Regions from separate parts of the Homo sapiens genome. Here regions 1, 2 and 4 are each linked to region 3. Evidence: fine-mapped expression QTL. A gene starts in region 3. Each other region holds a variant in brackets. All regions are shown on one strand. Distances are from middle to middle.

Region 1 (5,278 bases), 23 kb after region 3:
CACACAGTTTAGCTCTAGCCAGCATCCTTCCTGAGCTCCACCCCAGCTGAAGTCTTTTTCTGCCAGGTTCTCTTGGAAGCATCTGATGGTGCAGTCCAGACTGGCTGTGGACGTGCACCGTCCGCGGGGTGCAGTGCTGCATGAAGTCAGCCTGGGTGGTGCTGGGAGCTGTGTGGGGCTGGCACCCCTAGACCACCTTATGGTGGCCGGAAAACTGCCAAAGATGGAGAGGACTCTGGGGGCTTCAAGAGAGTGGGATCTGACCTTTCAGGGATTAGGAGAGGCCCTTGAAATTTTGATGAAGCCTTCATCTTACTTATTTATATTTTTTCAAAATGGACCCCTTTAAACATTGTGGTATAAATCTCCAGAGTAGAGGATGTATTATCTTGTTACATGAATTGTGTCCAGAAAATGTATGTCCTTCCCCAAAAACGAATTAGCATATGTTCAGTTGTAGCTTAAGTTTTGTTCAATATTAAAAGTTAAAAAATTAGTTTTAGGATTTTTTTTTTTTTTTTTTGAGATGGAGTCTCGCTCTGTCGCCCAGGCTGCAGTGCAGTGGCGCGATCTTGGCTCACTGCAAGCTCCGCCTTCCAGGTTCATGCCATTCTCCTGCCTCAGCCTCCCGAGTAGCTGGGACTACAGGCGCCTGCCACCACGCCCAGCTAATTTTTTTGTATTTTTAGTAGAGACGGGGTTTCACCGTGTTAGCCAAGATGGTCTTGATCTCCTGACCTGGTGATCCGCCTGCCTCGGCCTCCCAAAGTGCTGGGATTACAGGTGTGAGCCACCGCGCCCGGCCCTAGGATTTTTTTTTTTCTAAGATAAAATCTGAATAAAACCTTTTTTCACAGGTTACAATGGCATTTTTGTTTCCGTTGAGATTGCACTTACTGACGTGGCCTTTCCCTAATGCCACTTCTCTTTGGGTAACAAGGCCCTCTGGGGTAAACCTGCGGTGGCTGCCGAGACAGTCTTATCCACACAGTCATCGGGACAAACCTGAAAGGGTCTGAAGTTGGCCTGACTGCCTCGTGTCCACATAAGCGATGCGTTTCTACCTGTCACAACCTGTGGCTCCCTGAAGACAAGCCTGGGAGCTGCACTGCCCCCCGGCTCTGCTAACTACAGTCATCCCTGCACTTCCTCGGCTTTAGGATGCTGAAAACCAAGATCTGTTTTAGCAGAGCTGTGAGGAAAGAACGTGGACGGACAGCGTCCTCAGTGCTGTTGGGAGCACCCTCCGCTAGGGTGCGGGGAGCGGGCCCCTCTGCACGCAGGTCACTGGTTCCTCGGCCTCCTGCCGCCCCCAGCGAGCTAACGGCTGTGCTGTCCTCTAGGCCGTCATTTCCCTGATGGAGATGGGGTTCGACGAGAAAGAGGTGATAGATGCCCTCAGAGTGAACAACAACCAGCAGAATGCCGCGGTGAGTGTTGGGCTGTGGTGAGTGAGTGTGGGCTGTGGTGAGTGAGTGTGGGCTGTGGTAAGTGTGGGCTGTGGTGAGTGAGTGTGGGCTGTGGTGAGTGAGTGTGGGCTGTGGTGAGTGTGGGCTGTGGTGAGTGAGTGGGGGCTGTGATGAGTGAGTGTGGGCTGAGTGAGTGTGGGCTGTGGTGAGTGAGTGTGGGCTGTGAGTGTGGGCTGTGGTGAGTGAGTGTGTCAGGCTGGGCGAGTGCTGGGAGCCTCACTCGTGAGCGCCCCGGGCGTGGTGGAGGCCGTGTGTTTGCCTACTTTCACATGCAGCCGGCTATGTGGCTTTTAAAGTGAGACAATTGGATAGATGGCTCAAACAGTATAAAAATTTAAAAATACGGAATTCTAGGTTTTTAAAAGGGTGCCTTATATGTACATATTTTATGGATGGGTAATTTGTTCATTTTTTTTTTTTTTTAATTTTTTTGGAGTCAGGGTCTCACTCTGTCCCCCAGGCTGGAGTGCAGCGGTGTGATCACACTCACTGCAGCCTCGACCTCCTGGGCCCAAGCGATCCTCCTGCCTCAGCCTCCTGAGTAGCTGGGACCACAGGCATGCACCACTATGCCCGGCTAATTAGTTTTTTAGAGACAAGATCTCCCTTTGTTGCCCAGGCTGATCTTGAACTCCTGGCTTCAATCGATCCTCCTGCTTTGGCTTCCAAAGTGCTGGGATTACATGCATGAGCCACCACTCCCAGCCCATTTTTCTGATTAAACTGACTCAAGAATGATTCCCGTCCTGTGCCCGTGTGCCAGCTGGGCTGATGGAGCTGTGCCTGGGGAGGTCCCTGTGGTGGCCCACATCCCCCCCCCACCATCCCCCGTGCCAGTGGAGTTCGTGGCTCACACCTCCAAGACAGAGATGAGGAGCCTGTGTCCTCATGGCTCCAGCACTGCTGACTGCCCATAACAGGACCACAGGCAAGCTGGGCACTTGGTACATTTGTTAATCACCTTCCCAACACTCCTGGGTGGGCCACACTGGCCCAGGTAAGTGGGGAAGCGGCAGCAGTCAGTGATCCCTGCGACACCAGGGTCTGCAGAGAAAAGCGGACTAGCTCTTCCTTCTCTGGCCTGGTCTGACACGCACGGCAGTGAATCCAGACTGCGTTTGTCTTCACGGTAGAGTCCCTTCCAGGGAGATCAGCCCTGGGGGCTCAACAGGAACTCACAGAAAGGTGCAGGAGCTGTCATGCCTGCTGCTGGTGGCGTCTTGCGGAGGCACTGAAGGCGCTAACAGTGGTATTGGTGCTCTTGGCTTTGCAGTGCGAGTGGCTGCTGGGGGACCGGAAGCCCTCTCCGGAGGAGCTGGACAAGGGCATCGACCCCGACAGTCCTCTCTTTCAGGCCATCCTGGATAACCCGGTGGTGCAGCTGGGCCTGACCAACCCGAAAACATTGCTAGGTATGTGCGCCTTCTTTATGCTAAGTCTCGGGTCGGGGAGGCTGGCTGGTTCCCTTGCAGGACAAATAGGTGCTGCGGAGGCGATACGGAGGATCCAGCGCTGAGGATCGCCGTGCGCTGGCAGCACGTCCTGCCATGCAGGTTGGCATCCTGCGGGTGTAGTCCCGCTACGTCACTGTGGGGCCCGCAGGTCAGGTTCTGATCGTGGTGTGACTGTCTCCTGCGCGATGACCCTGACATAGGCCTCAGAAAACCAGTGCCAGTGGCTTTCCGAGGGCCAGCGGGGTGGAGACTGCGCCAGCAGCTTAGGAACTCACGGGAGGACAAGGTGTGGTTTGGGCTTTTGCTCTTACTACTC[G/A]TCAGGGTCTTCGATGGCAATGGTTTATTTTTATTGTGAGATACGTACATACAAAAGTGTATATGATGATGTAACTTTAAAGAAGAATAAAACTAATAGCCATGTATCTACTATTCAGCTTTGGGCCTGGGGTGCCCCTCCCCTATGCACCTCATCCCTCCCTCCGGTGTGGCCGTCGCCGTGGCCGCGGCTTACCTCTCTGCTTCCCGGTAGAGTTTTGCCGTATTTGTGTCTCCTTAAACAATCTCTCATTTGCTGCTGCCTTTGTGTAAGTAGAATCATGTTTTAAGCAGGCCTCTGTGACTGACTGCGTTCTTTGTGGGGGTTGTGGAGTATTTTCTTGATGGAAGGCACTGGGAACCCAGGGCTCGTTGGGTTGTCTACATGTGGTGCCACTCCTGATTTTTTTTTTTTTTTTTTTTTGAGACAGAGTCTCGCCTTGTCACCCAGGCTGGAGTGCAATGGCATGATCTCGGCCCACTGCAACCTCCGCCTCCCAGGTTCAAGCAATTCTCCTGCCTCAGCCTCCTGAGTACCTGGGATTACAGGCGTGCACTACCACGCCTGGCTAATTTTTCGTATTTTAGTAGAGACGGCTTTCACCATGTTTGCCAGGCTGGTCTCGAACTCCTGACCTCGTGATCCACCTGCCTCAGCCTCCCTAAGTGCTGGGATTACAGACCTGTTGGTCCCCAGGAGCTGAGTTCCTGGATGTTGGGAGGGCCTTTGCCACCCGAGCAGGCTGGAAGTGTCTCTGGAGCTGCGATGGCCGTGCCCTGATCTTGAAGGCTGGCCTTCTTTCAGAAGCGTATTGGCCGCCTGTAGAACCTTGGCTGTGAGAGACCTTCCGCTCAGCGTTTGGCCTGCTTTTCTCTTGGATTGTTTTCTTATTCATTCAGAAAGGTCCTCACCTCCTGGATGCTGACCCTTTTCCCATTATTTGTGTTGCAGATGCCGTTGTTCAGTTTCTGGTTTATTTCCTCACACTGATGGGCAGAATCCCGTGTTTTGATGTCCTTCAGTGTGTCTGTATTTTTTTTAAGATGTGAACCTTTAAAGAAAACCCTCCATGGCTGGGCGTGGTGGCTCACGCCTGTAATCCCAGCACTTTGGGAGGCTGAGGCAGGTGGATCACGAGGTCAGGAGTTCAAGACCAGCCTGGCCAAGATGGTGAAACGCTGTCTTTACTAAAAATACAAAAAATTAGTTGGGCATGGTGGTATGCACCTGTAATCCCAGCTACTCTGGAGCTGAGGCAGAGAATTGCTTAAACCTGGGGGGCGGAGGTTGCAGTGAGCCGAGATCGTGCCACTGCACTCTAGCCTGGGCGTCAGAGCAAGACTCCACCTCAAAAAAAAAAAAAAGAAAAAGGAAAACCCTCCTATCCGAAAGTCAGAAACACGTTTTCCTTTTATTTTTTTTTCCAAAAATGTTAAAAGTTTCTCTTAATTTAAGTCCATAATCTACCTAGAAGTATGTGTGTGGTGTGAGGTAGGGATCTTCTTTGTACCCAAATTCTAAAACTTGAGAATGGTCTTTTGTGAGTTTATTTTTATTCTTAGTGATTCCTTTCACACTGAAAGCATATTCCTCCTAGCTCTCCAGCTGTTTGTATACCTTAGGATGTTAGTGTGTGCTGCCTTGGGGTCTGTCCAATAACTTTTTCTTTTTTTTTTCCTAATAGAAATAGGCTCTTTCTCTGTCACCCAGGCTAGAGTGCAGTGATGGCGCCACTGTCCATGCAAGATCTGCCCCCAGCACACACACTTGCCCACCTCCATATTATAGACAAGACCTTCATTGTTTTAACTTGTATTCCTCTTTTTTTTTTTTTTTTTGAGATGGAATCTCGCTCTGTCACCCAGGCTGGAGTGCAGTGGCACGATCTCAGCTCACTGCAAGCTCCGCCTACCGGGTTCACGCCATTCTCCTGCCTCAGCCTCCTGAGTAGCTGGGACTACAGGTGCCCGCCACCGTGCCCGGCTAATTTTTTGTATTTTTAGTAGAGACAGGGTTTCACCGTGTTAGCCAGGATGGTC
Region 2 (5,278 bases), 31 kb after region 3:
TAACTAGTCACTCACAGATGACTTTTCTTTAATAAAGTCCCTTTTCCTATTTCCTGTCTTCGTCTTTTCTTGGTGCCGCACAAGAAACCCGTGCGTCCCCGAGAGGCCACATCCCCGCGGCTCCGTGCCGGCTGCTCTGACCCGGGGCGGGCACCGGGGCCACCGCAGCATGTGGGAGGCCTTGTGGCCATGTTTGGTTGGCAAAGCCTCGTGTTGTATTGGGTTTAAGGGACTGGAGCTGAGCCCGTATTCCTGGGACACAGGTCCTGAGCCCAAGCACGGCTGCCTCCGCCTACCTCTGGCCTCTTCCTCCTTTTTTTTCATTTTAAAAAACATGACCGGTGTCTTAAAATGAGAAAATGAATTTATTTTGTTTTTTGTGAACTCTGCTCATTATTGTTGCTGGAAGCAGTCAGTTCCGAGCTGTTTGTTTTGAACTTCTCTTCTGAACCAGCCCCCTCCCCTTCTGAACTCTGCTTGCATTGTAGCTGAGTAAGAATGTTTTCGGAAAATGTTTCTCTCCACACATCTAGGTCTTTTCATTGTTTTTGAGATTTAGATTTAAAACTAAAGTTAATTTAAACTCTTTGGGCAGAAATATTAAAAATGCTTTTCAAAAGTAATGAATCTCGGCCGGGCGCGGTGGCTCACACCTGTAATCCCAGCACTTTGGGGGACCGAGGCAGGCGGATCACGAGGTCAGGAGATCAAGATCATCCTGGCTAACACGGTGAAACCCCGTCTCTACTAAAAATACAAAAAATTAGCCGGGTGTGGTGGCGGGTGCCTGTAGTCCCAGCTACTTGGGAGACTGAGGCAGGAGAACGGTGTGAATTCGGGAGGCGGAGCTTGCAGTGAGCCAAGATCGCGCCACTGCACTCCAGCCTGGGCGACAGAGCAAGACTCCGTCTCAAAAAAAAAAAAAAAAGTAGCGAATCTCACTTCTTTTTGAGACGGAGTCTCAAAAAAAAAAAAGATGCCTGTCTACTACCCTGCTGCCAGGCCACAGGCCCTCGGCCCGCCCCACGTCAGCAGGGTCTAGCCAGCCACAGTGCCCTCCTTGCCCGCCATCCTCTTTTGGCAAACTTGTGAGTCGGAAGAGAATGTTCTCCTCAGCGAGTTTAAGAGTCAAAGTTGGGAAATTCCTTCCGAGGAACCTCTGGACAGGTGTGTCCTCAGCCCGCCTCCTGCGGGCTGTGGAGCCGTGCTTTCCACGGGTTCGCTGGCTGCCTGGCTCATCTTGCTGTGGCCTGAGCGTCCACAAGGTGGGCGAGGGGCCACACCAACACCTGCCTGATGTGGCCATGAGGAGGGAAGTGTGTGCCAGTGCCTTTCCTCGGAGATGCTGCGTTCGCTCCCGTTGGCTGGTCCTGCACATGCAGCTTCTCCAGGTGCGCCTCCTCCGCTAGCCCCGTGTTCTGCCGCGCCCGCCTTTCAGTCCCCAGAGGCCCTGAGGTCGGGAATGCGCGTTCTCACCCAGCCCTGTCCTCTGGTGAGCGTGGATCCACGTTTTAACCTGGTCGCGGTTTGCATGCAGTTGTGGAGTTCTGGGTGAGTAAACACCACGTGCCGCCGAGGCCTTCCCAGGGGCTGCGGGCCGTCCGTAGATGGGTTCTGGAGCACGTCGCAGCTGCCCTGGTGAATGTGGTTTCTGCTCCTGCAGCGGCTGCTGGGGAGGTGGGGAGTGCTCTGGGCCTGGTTGCAGTCCTGCCGCTTCTCTGGGCCAGGCCATCAGCGCACACATGGGCGAGGCACCATCCCTGTGAACACAGCCTGTGTCTGGCACGCGTATTTTAGGGCTGAGGTTGTATCTTACAAGGTGAAATGAAATGGCCGGCAAACTCTAGAAATTCTTCGTTTACGTGGACTTCAGTTCCATGACCAGTAACGCTGCTGTCCATGTGTGCCTTCGCCACAGTGGCCCATGAACTAGGGGCAGGCAGCTGGCCGAGCCTGGCCCTGAGCGCAGTTGTGTTCCAGCTGCTGAGGGCCAAGTGGCTTCTCAGCCCATGGGGCCAGGCTGCCTGGCTCTGGGGGGCGTGGGTGCTGGGTCGGGGACGCTGGGTCGTACACAGATGTTCCGGTGCACATTGCTCTGTTGAGATAAGGGCCACCTGTGTCATTTTGAGCTTCTGCTAAGCCGTTTTTCTTCTTCCGGGGTCCTGTGGAGCAGGACCCCTGGGCAGTGCCCTGTGGCCATACTCAGGGCTCTAGACCAGGGTGTGATGCCGAGGCAGGTCACCTGTGTGCCAGGGAAGGTGGAGGGAGTTAGATGGCTCACTTGGCCAGCATTCCCTCCTGCTCCGGTGGCCGAGCTTGGCGATGACACATGCGTTTCCTCGTGGAGTGGGATCATGCTGAGATTCCAGGACAGCGTGGCTCAGCTGCTGGAGGGGTGACTTCCCCTGAGATCGTGGGGTCAGGACATTGCTGTGCCGACTGTAGGCGCCGTCCACACAAGCAGGGGATTCCTCCCCCCAGGTGCAGAGAGAGGTGGCCCAGCCACTTGGGCCACTACAGCGAGCTGGCATGGCGGTGGGACCCCGGGTGAGGAGTCTGAAGGCAGGGGTGGGGCTCACTGTCAGCTGGTGGGGACTGGGGGGCTCCGGGAGGTACTGGATGTGGGAGAGGCTGGGGGTCCACCAGCCTGCATCCTTCTCGAGGTCAGGGCCCTGCTCCGTCCCGTTTCAGGGCTGGCTGGTTGTGGAGGCACTTGGAAAACACTCGCTGGAACAGGCGGGTGGGAGGTGGGGCTGGGACAGGGAGCATGGGAGCCAGAGACCGCAGGAGCCTGAATCCCAGAGGACATTCCTGCTGGGGGTGTGGGGACAGCACCATCGGGGGCCTCAGTGCATCCGGGGAGCAGGTGGGGCCTGCCTGGGTCAGCCTCAGCCCAGCTGTGGGGTTCGCCCCCGTGCCCTTCGCTGCCCTTGGAGGCATGCTTGGTCCCACGGGAAGGCAGGAGGATGAGCTGCCATTTGCAGGGTGTGGGGTGGGCAGAGCATTCATGCGCTGGGCACAGCCTCAGCCAGAGGAAGGGCATTGTTGGCGTTCTGGGCCCAGCACAGGCTGGAGAGAAGGAACCCTCATGTGCAGATGTGGCCGAGCCTCCTAACCATGAGAGCACCGCCCAGAGACAGCATGTGCCCAGGGGTGCCCCCGCCCACCCAGGGGCTCTCTCTCGGGTTAG[G/T]GCCGGGAGTCGGGTGTGGCACCTGCAAGCAGCTTTCTGTGCCCAGTGGAGGCTTGGAAGGCACAGCTGCCTCCAGGTGAGGATGCCTGGTGCCTGGCTGGGGACTGACTCCCAGGCAGAGAACACAGCCATGTGGCTCTGGGGGACAAGGGTTTGGATGCTGCAGACTGGGCAGGGCTGGGGGCGGGGGTCTGAGGCAGTTAGTGGCTCTTCGACGTTCTCTCAGAGCTCGCTCTGGTTTCCCGCCTGACGGTCTCCCCTTGAACAGCTGCACTTAAGTGAGGTCCACCCTTGCCCCACTCCCAGGCGGGCTCACTGGCTTGGCACACGAGGGAGTCTGAGGGAGCCCCCTGTGGGGTGGTGCCTGCATTCTGGGCTCCCAAGAGCTGGCTTCCTGCAGGGGAACCTGCCAGTGCACCCCCGGCACTTTCCTGGGATCGAGTCTCCGCCAGGGATGTCTCCTGGCTTGGTCCTCAAGGGTCTGCCAGCCTCATACCCCGCAGGGCACGGTGGGCTCTCCAAGGCCAGGCAGGGCCTTTTTGACGGGTTCAGCCTAAGCCCAGGGCTGGCAGGGCCAGGGCCTGCGGTTGGGCTGCTCATCACCCAGCAGTCGCCGGGGAGCATGGCTGAGTGCCCTGTCCCCAACTGTCACTGCCCACATAACTGGGGGTGGGCCCAGGGCTTTCTTTGGCCAGCAGGTGCCCCACTCTCTTCTCCACATTCCCAAGAGGGGCTCCCTTCACCCACAAGCTGTCCTTAGGGGCTCAGAATGAGTCCCAGCCTGTGTAGGGCCCCAAGTGTGGTCCTCCCGCGCCTCCCAGGCAGCCCCTGGGCTGTGGGCAGGCTCTGGCGCCAGCAGGGCATGAGCCTGGCTCTCGCCCAGCAGTGGGGTCTCTGTCCACCCTGCATCGTGCTCAGCCTCCCCCAGGCAACTGCGCTCTTCCTCTCAGCAGCCATGCGCCCCCTGGGCCGTGTGGCCACACTCCTGCCCTGTGCTTGGCCTCTCTGGGGTGGGCGGGGATGCCCACCCTCCCAGTGCCACCTCCCGGGCTCCTGAGAACTGTGAGCCCCATCCTGGGCTGGCCTCTGCTTCACCCAGAGGCTGTGGACCTCACAGCCCAGGCACGTCCCCTTCCCCTCTGGGGACCTGGCTGACCCCTCCTGGGCTCCTGAATGACAAGGGCCTGGATCCCAGACTTGTGAGGGCCCTTCCAGGTCCCTGTCAGAGTGGACCCCACCCACACCCAAGAGCACGTTCCTGCCCTGGTGTGAGCCTCGGGCACCAGGGCCACAGCCAGGGATCAGGGCCACTGCCGAGGGCCGTGGTGGAGCAGGCCTGGGACCATGAGCCCTGTGGCCGCAGCGGCTCTGCAAGCTGGCAGAGTCCTGACAAAAGCTCTGGGACCTGCACCCCTGTCCTTGAGTGGAGATGGATGGAGACAGGAGACCTGGTGTCCAGGCTCCGCCGCAGCAGGCACTGCCCTGGCAGGTCGGGGAGAGCCTGACTTCCAGGGCCCAGCCGCAGAGTCTAGAGAAATGATTTTACTCGGGCTGGGGGGTGGCGGGGACACAGGTGCCACAGAGCAGGAGGTGTGGTCAGGTGGGGCCTTCCCGCCCACAGCACTGGCTCTGTCGCCAGAAAGATCCTCCTCGAAGTGAGCTCGGAAGCGGACTCTCCCAGAGGGCAGGGGTGGCAGCTGCGGGGCTGTGGTACACTCTGCCTGCGGCGTCGCCCGTGTGTGGTTTTTGAAGTGTGTGTGTGGTGGTGTGGTGTGCGTGTGTGCTCTGTGTGCATGCACAGGCGTGCATGTGTGTGTGTGTGCTCTCTGCATGCAGAGGCGTGCGTGTGTGTGCGTGTGTGCTCTGCGTGCACAGGTGTGCGTGTGTGCTGTGTGCATGCAGAGGCATGTATGTGTGTGTGTGCATGCACAGGTGTGTGCATGTGTGCTGTGTGCATGCACAGGCGTGCATGTGTGTGCATGTGTGCTCTGCATGCATAGGCGTGCATGCGTGTATGCTGTGTGCATGCACAGGTTTGTGTGTGTGTGCGTGTGCTCTGCATGCACAGGTGTGCGTGTGTGTGCATGT
Region 3 (5,278 bases):
CCCATGGCTCCATCCTTTCCCTGTCACTTTGTCCCCTCCCTCTTTGACTTTGGTCCAGAGGACATCAACAAACATGGCTCAAGCAAAGGCTGAAAAACCTGCTGCGGTGGATCCCAGACACTCCCGTGGGAACTCACTGGGGAACATGAGACCGAGGCTGAGGGCCTAGGGATCCCGACCAGCCCACCTGCCAGCCTGGCTTGGTCAGCAGCACCACCCAGCCAGCCGTGGACTTGTGAGAAGTGATGGAGAGCTGTTGGTTGTTTTACCCGCTGAGTTTTAGGACGGTTTTGTTATGCAGCATCACTGTGGCTGCAGATACCAGATCTGCAGCCAGGCAGGCTTGGGCCCCAGTCCCCTTCCGGTCCCTGGAGACGCTCCCTGAGATGACGTGATATTTCTGGTTCTTCTCTTACAGGCCCCATTTTCTCCTCAATATCTTCTCCGCCTTGTGTTTCATGGAGCCACACTCTTGGAACTTTCCTAGTACCATACTCCTCTGTTTTCTTCATGAGCTCCTCTGCATGGGAAGGGGGGTGGGCATCCTCTTAGTTCCAGCTGCCGCTGGTGTGCTCATGACTGGTTTGACTTTTTTGTTTTGTTTTGTTTTTTTGGGACGGGGTCTTGCTGTGTTGCCCAGGCTGGAGTGCAGTGGTGCCATCACGGCGCACTGCAGCCTGGACCTCCTGGGCTCAGGTGATCCTCCCACCTCAGCCTTCTGAGTAGCTGGGACCACAGGTGTGCACCACCACGCCCAGCTCATTAATTTTTTTTATTTTTTGTAGAGGGTCTTGCTACGTGGCCCAGGCCGGCTGCCCAGTGTTTGTCTCCAGCCCAGGCCTCTCTCCTCAACTTCAGTCCTGTAGGTCCAGCTGCCTCCAGGCCACCTCCGTGTGAATGCCCCCAGCACATCCAGGTCCCCGTGTCCAAAACTACCCAACACCTTCCTGGCCAATGGCTCCTCCTCCTGCCTCCTACTTCAAAAGGTGGCACTGCCCTGCACTCTGCCACCCACACTGGAAGTCTTCAAGTCATCCTTGATTTCACTCTTGGGCCCACACCCTCCAATCCTGCTGGCCTCCCCTCCCACAGGCCACTGGAAGCCCCCTTCTCCTCTTCCTCTCCCTCCGCATTGCTCCCCCGCAAGGATGCCCTGCCCTCTTCCCTGTCCCCTCCACAGTCACCACCATTCATTCTGCCACCTGGTCACACCGTTAGTGGCTCTCACAGCAACGTCTTAATGCTCTGACCCGGCTCCTCCAAGCCCTCTAGCTTCCCCCACTCTCCACTCACCACCTTGGTGTTCCTCCCCTTTCTCCTCCACCAGCTTCCACGATACTACCACCACCTCCACTGCGGTCTCTAACAGTCGGTACTTCTGCTTCCTGCGTTAAAAATGCCCCATTCCAGGACTGTATCCTGGTGTCTGGTCTTAATCACTACCATATTTTCATTGAGTAGCAGAGGCTCCCACCTGTGAGAGGCAATTAGTAAGTGCTGAACTGGACACATGGAATCTGGACGAGGTTGGAATTATCACAGGAGAAAAATGAGGATGTGTGTGCAAAATGGTGTGGACAGAATAAAAGCCTGCAGGCAGGAGGCAGAGACAGCCTCCCCGGTTAGATTGCTAACCTCTGAGAACGGGAACTGTGCCTTATTCATCTCTGCGCAGTAAAGTTTTTTTAAATGAATGGGATGAATGAGTACAGATCAGTCAATGTGTCAGGTCTAACCTGAACTACAAAATTCATATTTAGGAGCATGGTAAGTAAGACGTTATCCAGGACTGTTGAGCTAGGTACAGAGACCACTGCCAAGGGGGCTTGCAGTGGGGAGAGAGGTCAGGCTCAACTCCCAATACAGCAAGGGCAAGTGGGTGGGGTCAGTGAATGGAAAATTAATAGGAGAAAACATCAGGGATGTGGGCGGTTCTGGCTAAACCGACCTGACAGGGTTCTTGCTGAAGAGAGGCTGGAGATATCAGACAGCACCTGGGGGACGAGGAACCTGACCAGACGTCCAGGGTGATCTGATATTGAGGCTGGGAGTTCTTGCTAAACTCACTTATCAAGGCTCTTCGCTAAAACTGGATTTTACAAGGAAGTGTACAGATGATGTAGAAGGTTCAGGAGCCTGCTTAAGTTTGGCCAAGCAAAGACTCTTTGTCACACCCCACAGAAAATGAGTCTGCCTGGCATCACCTGCACCAAGGGCGGCTTCCCTCCCCTCTGGGTGCCCCGCAAACCTAGGCTTCGCAGGAACAGTGACTCTCTGATCTGCGTGTGAATTAGAAAGACCTAGGCTTGTTAAAGCCAAGTTCTTTGGAGAGCCTCCGTTCTACAGCAGTGCAGTGCAAAAGAAATATCACAGCAGCCATGTAGGCAATTTAAAATTCTATCTTAAAAAGGTTAAAAGAAACAGGTGAAATTAATTTTAATGACATATTTTTCTTAACTCAATAGATACAAAATATTATTTCAACATGTAATCAATATGAAAACATTATCGAGATGCCTTACATTCCTTTTTCCCGTTACTTCTTTGGGATCCAGCGTGTATTTTACCTTTAGAACCCATGAGGTCCCACGTGGTGAGTGCCCCGGGTGGGAACCGCCTGCAGCTCGGGGAGGAACGAAGCTACCAGAGAACTACAGCTCCCGGCATGCTCCGGGCGCGCCCCGTGACGCACTTCCTTTGCGGTGGCCACAGCGCGCCCCCGGCGGCGGGAGCGAGGCGCCTGTCCGAGAACCACATCTCCCGGCATGCGCCAGACGCGCCCGTGACGCACTTCCGGTGCGGCCGCGACGGCGCGCCCCCGGCGGCTGCTGCGGCGGCGGGAGCGAGGCGACCGCTGAGGCCGCGGAGAGTGACGGCGGCCCGGCCGACGGGAGCCGGGGCGGGGCGGCGGCCCAGCGAAGGAGCGCGCGGGCGGTCTGGCCCCGCCCCCTCCCCGCCCGCCTTCCCGGTGACCTTCAGGGGCCCGGGTGGCGGGCGCAGGCCCCTGCGGCGGCGGCGGGATGTTCGTGCAGGAGGAGAAGATCTTCGCGGGCAAGGTGCTGCGGCTGCACATCTGCGCGTCCGACGGCGCCGAGTGGCTGGAGGAGGCCACCGAGGACACCTCGGTGGAGAAGCTCAAGGAGCGCTGCCTCAAGCACGTAAGGCCGGGCCCCCTCCCCTGCCCCCAACACCCGCTCCGGACCCCTCCGACTGCGGACCCCGCCTCAGTCCCCGAACCGCCCCGACCTGGGGTCCGCCGCCCAGTCCGCAGCTCCCAGGCCCTCTCCTCCGGGGGTGGAGGCAGCGCCTCCTGCCCGTTTGCCCGACTCTCCCCCTTTCGGATCCCACACCTCTGGACGCTCGTCCCGGGCCTGGCCTTTCGGCCGGCGGACTCCGGTCACTAAGCGCTCGCCCCGTGCCAGCCGCCCGGCCGAGCCCTGTACACGCCAGCCTCTCAGTTAACTCTGCAGCCACGCAGGGAGGTAGGGGCAGATCGGGAAACTGAGGCCTGGAGAGTGAAGTCGCCGACGGAGCAGGGCCTCGGGACTTTCCGGCAGTTGTACCTTTTTGCTGTTGGGGTGAGGTTTTTTTTCAGCAGCATCTTTGAGAGCTGAGAATTAACGTAGGCTCCTTCATGAAGAGGCCCCTTCTCCTTCCTCTTCCCCTTTCCCGCAGAGCCGGCTGCTTGGAGCTCTTTTCCTGGCTGGCCCCAGGCCACTGTGCCTTTTAGCTGGAGTCCCTGAAATAGTGCCGCTGCGGGACAAGGCCCTGCGCCCCTGCTTTTCTGCAGAGGTAAAATTGGTCAAGAGAGAAGTCCCAGGAGTAGGGTCTCCTCGCGGAGACACTTTTTAAAGTTTATTCACCTGAAATACTCCTGTGTATTTAGTTCCTTAGGTTGCTGATTTTTGGAACTAGTTCTCGAGTCTCTAAAGGACTCAGTAAGGTCAGCTAAGAAGCCTGTCTGTGTGTCAGACTGACCTCCTGTCTATACCTGACATGATCTGAGGGCTTGGCAGAATTTAGGTTGAAGGAGGCTGCAATTTTCTAGTGGCGACTCCATGTGATAAGTTACGACGTATCTGTGTTGACAGGTTGAGTGCGTTACACTTGAGCTGAGTGTGGTCTCTAAGGATAAACTTCAGTTCTTACCATAGTAGCTGCTCGCATACAGTACTTTCGAGTTGCTTTTGTGAGCATGGTTCTGTGGAGTTCTGGAACTGTCAGAGGCAAGCTTGGCAAGCCCCCTTCTGGAACGCACTGGCTGTGAATAACTGGGAGGTGCTGGCCTCAGGATTCACACCAAGGAGGGGGCTGAGCCTCCTGCGTTCAAGGGCCGGTATGTTTTGGCTGCTTTCTTGCTTTTCTTCTGCCCCAGTCTGCATGATTTTGCCGTCTGAACAACCATCGGGGCATCACTAAGCTCCAGCGCCGGTAACTCCGTGGGCATCCAGGCTGTTTGAGCCAGGTGGTGTTGCTTGTCTAGTTGTGTGTATTTTAAAAAACTTCTCTGGGCCGGGCACGGTAACTCACACTTGTAATCCCAGCACTTTGGGAGGCCGAGGTGGGCGGATTATGAGGTCAGGAGATTGAGGCCATCTTGGCCAACATGGTGAAACCCCGTCTCAACTAAAATACAAAAAATTAGCGGGGCGTGGTGGTGTGTGCCTGTAATCCCAGCTACTTGGGAGGCTGAGGCAGGGTAATCGCTTGAACCCGGGAGGCGGAGGTTGCAGTGAGATGAGATCGCGCCACTGCACTCCAGCCTGGCGACAGAGCAAGACTCCGTCTCAAAAAAAAAAAAAAAAAAAAACCAGACAAAAAACCCTAGAAACTTCTCTGAGGTGCTGCTGTGTCCTCCCTGAGCCAGTACAGAAGCTCCTCAGGGGTTCGGTTTATATCCACAAGTCCAGGGCCGGGCTTAGAGTGGCACCAAAACAAACTTGTGGGTTAATGGAATAGACAAAAATATCCTGTGGACCCCACACTGCATCGACATGGGATGTCCCCTGCGTTGGCACGGCATTTACTTTAACTCACTCGGTGCGATGTGCATGGCCATCATGATACTCTTTTATGAAAGGAAATAGGAAATGAGAGCTGTTTGATCCACAGATACCTACTCATGAATTTCAGGAGCACGGAGGGTCAGTTAGGCAGCCAGTTCCGATGCAATGCTAATTATTATACTCCTGATATATATTATTCCATTTGGTGTTGAGATGTATCATTTGGGATGTTTTGTCATTATTCTACTTTAAATTGAGATTGTATCCCACTC
Region 4 (5,278 bases), 120 kb after region 3:
TTACAATTTGGCATCTTTTTGCAGTGGCTGGTACCAGTTTTTCCTTTCCATGTTTAGTGCTTCCTTCAGGAGCTCTTGTAAGGCCTGGTGGTGACAAAATCTCTCAGCATTTGCTTGTCTGTAAAGGATTTTGTTTCTCCTTCGCTTATGAAGCTTAGTTTGGCTGGATATGAAATTCTGGGTTGAAAATTCTTTTCTTTAAGAATGTTGAATATTGGCCCTCACTCTCTTCTGGCTTTTAGGGTATCTGCAGAGAGATCTGCTGTTAGTTTGATGGGCTTCCCTTTGTGGGTAACCTGACCTTTCTCTCTGGCTGCACTTAACATTTTTTCCTTCATTTCAACCTTGGTGAATCTGATGATTGCGTCTTGGGGTTGCTCTTCTCGTGGAGTGTGCTGTTCTCCGTATTTCCTGAATTTGAATGTTGGCCTGTCTTGCTAGGTTGGGGAAGTTCTCCTGGATAATATCCTGAAGTTTGTTTTCCAACTTGGTTCCATTCTCCCCGTCACTTTAGGTACATCAGTCAAACGTAGGTTTGGGCTTTTCACATAGTCCCATATTTCTTGGAGGCTTTGTTTGTTCCTTTTCATTCTTTTTTCTCTAATCTTGTCTTCATGCTTTATTTCATTAAGTTGATCTTCAATCTCTGATATCCTTTCTTCCACTTGATCGATTCAGCTACTGATACTTGTGTATATTTCATGAAGTTCTCGTGCTGTGTTTTTCAGCTCCGTCAAGTCATTTGTGTTCTTCTCTAAGCTGGTTATTCTAGTTAGCAATTCCTCTAACCTTTTTTCAAGGTTCTTAGCTTCCTTGCATTAAGTTAGAACATGCTCCTTTAGCTCAGAGGAATTTGTTATTCCCCACCTTCTGAAGCCTACTTCTGTCAGTTTGTCAAACACATTCTTCGTCCAGCTTTGTTCCCTTGCTGGCAAGGAGTTGTGATCCTTTGGAGGAGAGGAGGCATTCTGGTTTTTGGAATTTTCAGCCTTTTTGCACTGGTTATTCCTCATCTTTGTGGATTTATCTACCTTTGGTTTTTGATGTTGGTGACCTTTGGATGGGGTTTTTGTGTGGATGTCCTTTTTGTTGATGTTGATGCTATTCCTTTCTGTTACTTTTCCTTCTAAAAGCCAGGTCCCTCTGCTGCAGGTCTGCTGGAGTTTGCTGGAGGTCCACTCCAAACCCTGTTTGCCTGGATATCACCAGCAGAGGTTGCAGAACAGCAAAGATTGCTGCCTGTTCCTTCCTCTGGAAGCTTTGTCCCAGAAGGGCACCCTCCGGATGTCAACCGGAGCTCTCCTGTATGAGGTGTCTGTTGACCCCTGCTGGGAGGTAAACACCCAGTCAGGAGGCACGGGAGTCAGGGACCTACTTGAAGGCAGTCTGTCCCTTAGCAGAGCTTGAGCGCTGTGCTGGGAGAGCCACTGATCTCTTCAGAGCCAGCAGGCGGTGATGTTTAAGTCTGCTGAGGCTATGCCCATAGCCACCCCTTCCCCTAGGTGCTCTGTCCCAGGGAGATGGGAGTTTTATGTATAAGCCCCTGACTAGGGCTAATACTTTTCTTTCAGAGATGCCCTGCTCAGAGAGGAGGAATCTAGAGAGGCAGTCTGGCTACAGCGGCTTTGCCCAGCTCTGGAGGGCTCCACCCAGTTTAAACTTCCTGGCGGCTTTGTTTACACTGTGAGGGAAAAACCCACCTACTCAAGCCTCAGTAATGGTGGACGTCCCTCCTCCCACCAAGCTCGAGCACCCCAGGTCGACTTCAGACTACTGTGCTGGCAGCGAGAATTTCAAGCCAGTGGATCTTAGCTTCCTGGGCTCTGTGGGGGTTGGATCCACTGAGCTAGACCACTTGCCTCCCTGACTTCAGCACCCTTTCCAGGGGAATGAACAGTTCTGCCTCGCTGGCGTTCCAGGCACCACTAGGGTATGAAAAAAAACTCCTGCAACTAGCTCGGTGTCTGCCCAAATGGTCGCCCAGTTTTGTGCTGGAAACCCAGGGCCCTGGTGGTGTAAGCACTGAAGGGAATCTCCTGGTCTGTGGGTTGCGAAGACTGTGGGAAAAGCATAGTATTTGGACCAGAATGCACCATTCCTCACGGCTTCCCTTGGCTGGAAGAGGGAGTTCCCCGACCCATTGTGCTTCCTGGGTGAGGTGATTCCCCACCGTGCTTGCCCTCTGTGGGCTGCACCCACTGTCTAATCAGCCCCAATGAAATGAGCTGGGTACCTCAGTAGGAAATGTAGAAATCACCCGCCTTCTGTGTTGATCTTGCTGGGAGCTGCAGATTGGAGCTGTTTGATCTTGCCAGCCACCTTCCTCCTGCCTTTCTTCACCCTTTTCATGATACTGTCCAGCTCAAGAAGGAAGTCTTGTTTTTCCTGCTGCTTGTGAGGTGGTTTCACCTGTTCTGCCTGGTGGGAAAGGCCTCTTCCCATCGGACCCCGTCGTGAGTCATGGCTGGAGCCCCCTTCTTCTTGCGGGGCTCCTCTTCTTGCCTGCTGGTCCTTAGGAATGAGGAGTCAGGAATGCTAGGAAGCAGCTAAGCTTCAGTTCACTCTGGGATGAGACATAGCGGGGGAGGGGGACCTCAGAGTCATGGGCCCGCTCTGCACCTCCGAGGCTGGGGAGTGTCTCTGGTCTGATACAGTATTATGTGGGGCCCTGTGCAGTGGGTCCTACTGCCAACCGTTGGGTAGTGATGCCTGCTGAAACCCTATGGCCAGGAGAGGCCAACACTCAGGTGCAGAATGCACGGCTGCTCTTGGAAAAGTGAACTGCTGGCCCTTCCAGGCTGCAAGGGGTCCATTGTAGTTACCTTGCTGCCTAGTGATTGGTTGGTCTTCTCCAGGACGGTGCCATATTAGGAGTCAGCACTGGTCTTGGCAGGTGGTAGTCTGTGCTCTTAGTCTCCATACCTGCCTACCTCTGGCTGCTTCATGTGTGTGTCTGTTGTCCTGGCCTGAGAGTGGCTGATGGCAGAGTTTGTCTGCATTCCCAGTTGACCCACTGTTAACTGTGCCCAGGCTTTCCCCTTTTCCATCTGTGGT[C/T]GTCAGGGGCCCTTGTGTGGCTGTAGAGAGGGGCTCGGTGGGCTGCTGGTGCCCTGGCAGTAGCTCGTGAGGGTCTGGGCTGTGTATGCCTGCAGCTCGTGCCCCTGCTCCTGTGCAGGCTCGGTCCCAAGGCACAACTCCGTCTTATGGGTGCACTCGGCCTTAGCCCTGGAGTGAGTGGGTGGCAGAACCCAGCTTGTGATGGGCAGTTCTGAACACACTGTCAGCAGGCGTACAGTACCCTGTGCACATCAGGGGCTGTTGTTAATGTCGCGTGATTCTCTGTGGCTCTACAGTCCCGGGATCTTGCATTGTGCTCTCCCAGCTGACTTGCCAGAGACTCCTGTGGCATGTTCTCCCTCCACTGATACCTGTAGGCCATGGGATGTGATGACCCCTCCCTTTCCCAGTGCATACTCATCTGGGAACGTAGCTGGTGGTCCCTTTGGGAATGACTGGGGAACCATTGCCATGCATGCTCACCTTAGTGTTGCTGGTCCCAGAGACTGGGCATTGTTGGGAGGAAATACGGACACAAACAGACTCATAGCTATTCATATGCATGTGGCAGGCACAGAAACAGTGGCTTGCTGAGTAGCTAGAAATAGGGACTCATACACTCTGCATCAGCAGGGAGGCAGGGAGAGAAGAAGCTTGTATGGGAAGGATGAATCAGTTTCCTCAGGAAAGACAGATAGGCTCATACAGGAGCAGAACCGAAGGGCGCCGAACCAAGTAGAAAGTGTGTAGCGAAGTGTGTCTGCAGAACGGGTAGAAAGTGTGTGATGATGTGTGTCTTGAGAATGGAGTAGAAAGTGCGTAACAATGTGTGTCTATAGAACAGGGTAGAAAGTGCGTGGTGACGTGTGTCTGCAGAACGGATATAAAGTGTGTGGTGATATGTCTCTGAAGAATGGGTAGAAAGTGCGTGGTGACGTGTGTCTGTAGAACAGGGTAGAAGGTACGTGGCGAACGTGTGGCTACAGAATGGGTAGAAACTGCTTGATGACGTGTGTCTGTAGAACGGGGTAGAAAGTGCGTGATGACATGTCTGTAGAATGGGTGGAAAGTGCGTGATGACGTGTGTCTGTAGAACAGGTGGAAAGTGCATGATGATGTGTGTCTGTAGAACGGGTGGAAAGTGCGTGATGACGTGTGTCTGTAGAACGGGTGGAAAGTGCGTGATGATGTGTGTCTGTAGAACGGGTGGAAAGTGCGTGATGATGTGTGTCTGTAGAACGGGTAGAAAGTGCGTGATGATGTGTGTCTGTAGAAGGGGTGGAAAGTGCATGATGATGTGTGTCTGTAGAATGGGTGGAAAGTGCGTGATGACGTGTGTCTGTAGAAGGGGTAGAAAGTGCATGATGTGTGTCTGTAGAACAGGTGGAAAGTGCGTGATGATGTGTGTCTGTAGAACGGGTGGAAAGTGCGTGATGATGTGTGTCTGTAGAACGGGTGGAAAGTGCGTGATGACATGTGTCTGTAGAACGGGTGGAAAGTGCGTGATGACGTGTGTCTGTAGAAGGGGTAGAAAGTGCGTGATGATGTGTGTCTGTACAGTGGGTAGAAAGTGCGTGATGACATGTCTGTAGAATGGGTGGAAAGTGCGTGATGACGTGTGTCTGTAGAACGGGTGGAAAGTGTGTGATGACGTGTGTCTGTAGAACGGGTGGAAAGTGCGTGATGACGTGTGTCTGTAGAACGGGTAGAAAGTGTGTGATGACGTGTCTGTAGAATGGGTGGGAAGTGCGTGATGACGTGTGTCTGTAGAATGGGTGGAAAGTGCGTGATGACGTGTGTCTGTACAGGGGGTAGAAAGTGCGTGATGACGTGTGTCTGTAGAAGGGGTAGAAAGCGTGTGATGATGTGTGTCTGTAGAAGGGGTAGAAAGCGTGTGATGATGTGTGTCTGTAGAACAGGTGGAAAGTGCGTGATAACGTGTGTCTGTAGAACGGGTAGAAAGTGCGTGATGACGTGTGTCTGTAGAAGGGGTAGAAAGTGCGTGATGACGTGTGTCTGTACAACGGGCAGAAAGTGCGTGATGACGTGTCTGTAGAACCGGTAGAAAGTGCGTGATGATGTGTATCTGTAGAAGGGGTAGAAAGTGCATGATGATGTGTGTCTGTAGAACGTGCGTGGTGACGTGTGTCTCTAGAATGGGTAGAAAGTGCGTGATGACGTGTGTCTGTAGAAGGGGTAGAAAGTGCGTGATGACGTGTGTCTG

What was found. PIP is the estimated chance that this variant, and not a neighbour inherited with it, causes the effect.
Region 1: its variant is the best candidate, but not a certain one, in a credible set for the expression of UBAC1 in lung (TOPMed, PIP 0.69).
Region 2: its variant is the best candidate, but not a certain one, in a credible set for the expression of UBAC1 in visceral fat (GTEx, PIP 0.79).
Region 4: its variant is the best candidate, but not a certain one, in a credible set for the expression of UBAC1 in whole blood (INTERVAL, PIP 0.66).

What each region holds. Positions count from the first base shown.
Region 1 is chr9:135,935,825-135,941,102 of GRCh38, reverse strand. UBAC1 (UBA domain containing 1) reads left to right here. Exons shown (of 10, transcript NM_016172.3): 8 at 1,344-1,430; 9 at 2,743-2,881. Among named protein-coding and RNA genes, the nearest start is that of UBAC1, 23 kb to the left of the region's middle. The variant G/A (reference allele first, on the strand shown) is at 3,240.
Region 2 is chr9:135,927,740-135,933,017 of GRCh38, reverse strand. UBAC1 (UBA domain containing 1) reads left to right here. Exons shown (of 10, transcript NM_016172.3): 10 at 1-49. Among named protein-coding and RNA genes, the nearest start is that of CAMSAP1-DT, 23 kb to the right of the region's middle. RefSeq lists an enhancer at 808-1,307. The variant G/T (reference allele first, on the strand shown) is at 3,191.
Region 3 is chr9:135,958,905-135,964,182 of GRCh38, reverse strand. UBAC1 (UBA domain containing 1) reads left to right here and starts at 2,810. Exons shown (of 10, transcript NM_016172.3): 1 at 2,810-3,158. The coding sequence starts at 3,021. RefSeq lists silencers at 2,661-3,070, 3,081-3,200 and an enhancer at 2,690-3,190.
Region 4 is chr9:135,837,619-135,842,896 of GRCh38, reverse strand. The region is part of intron 7 of CAMSAP1 (calmodulin regulated spectrin associated protein 1); the gene reads left to right. Among named protein-coding and RNA genes, the nearest start is that of CAMSAP1, 67 kb to the left of the region's middle. The variant C/T (reference allele first, on the strand shown) is at 3,055.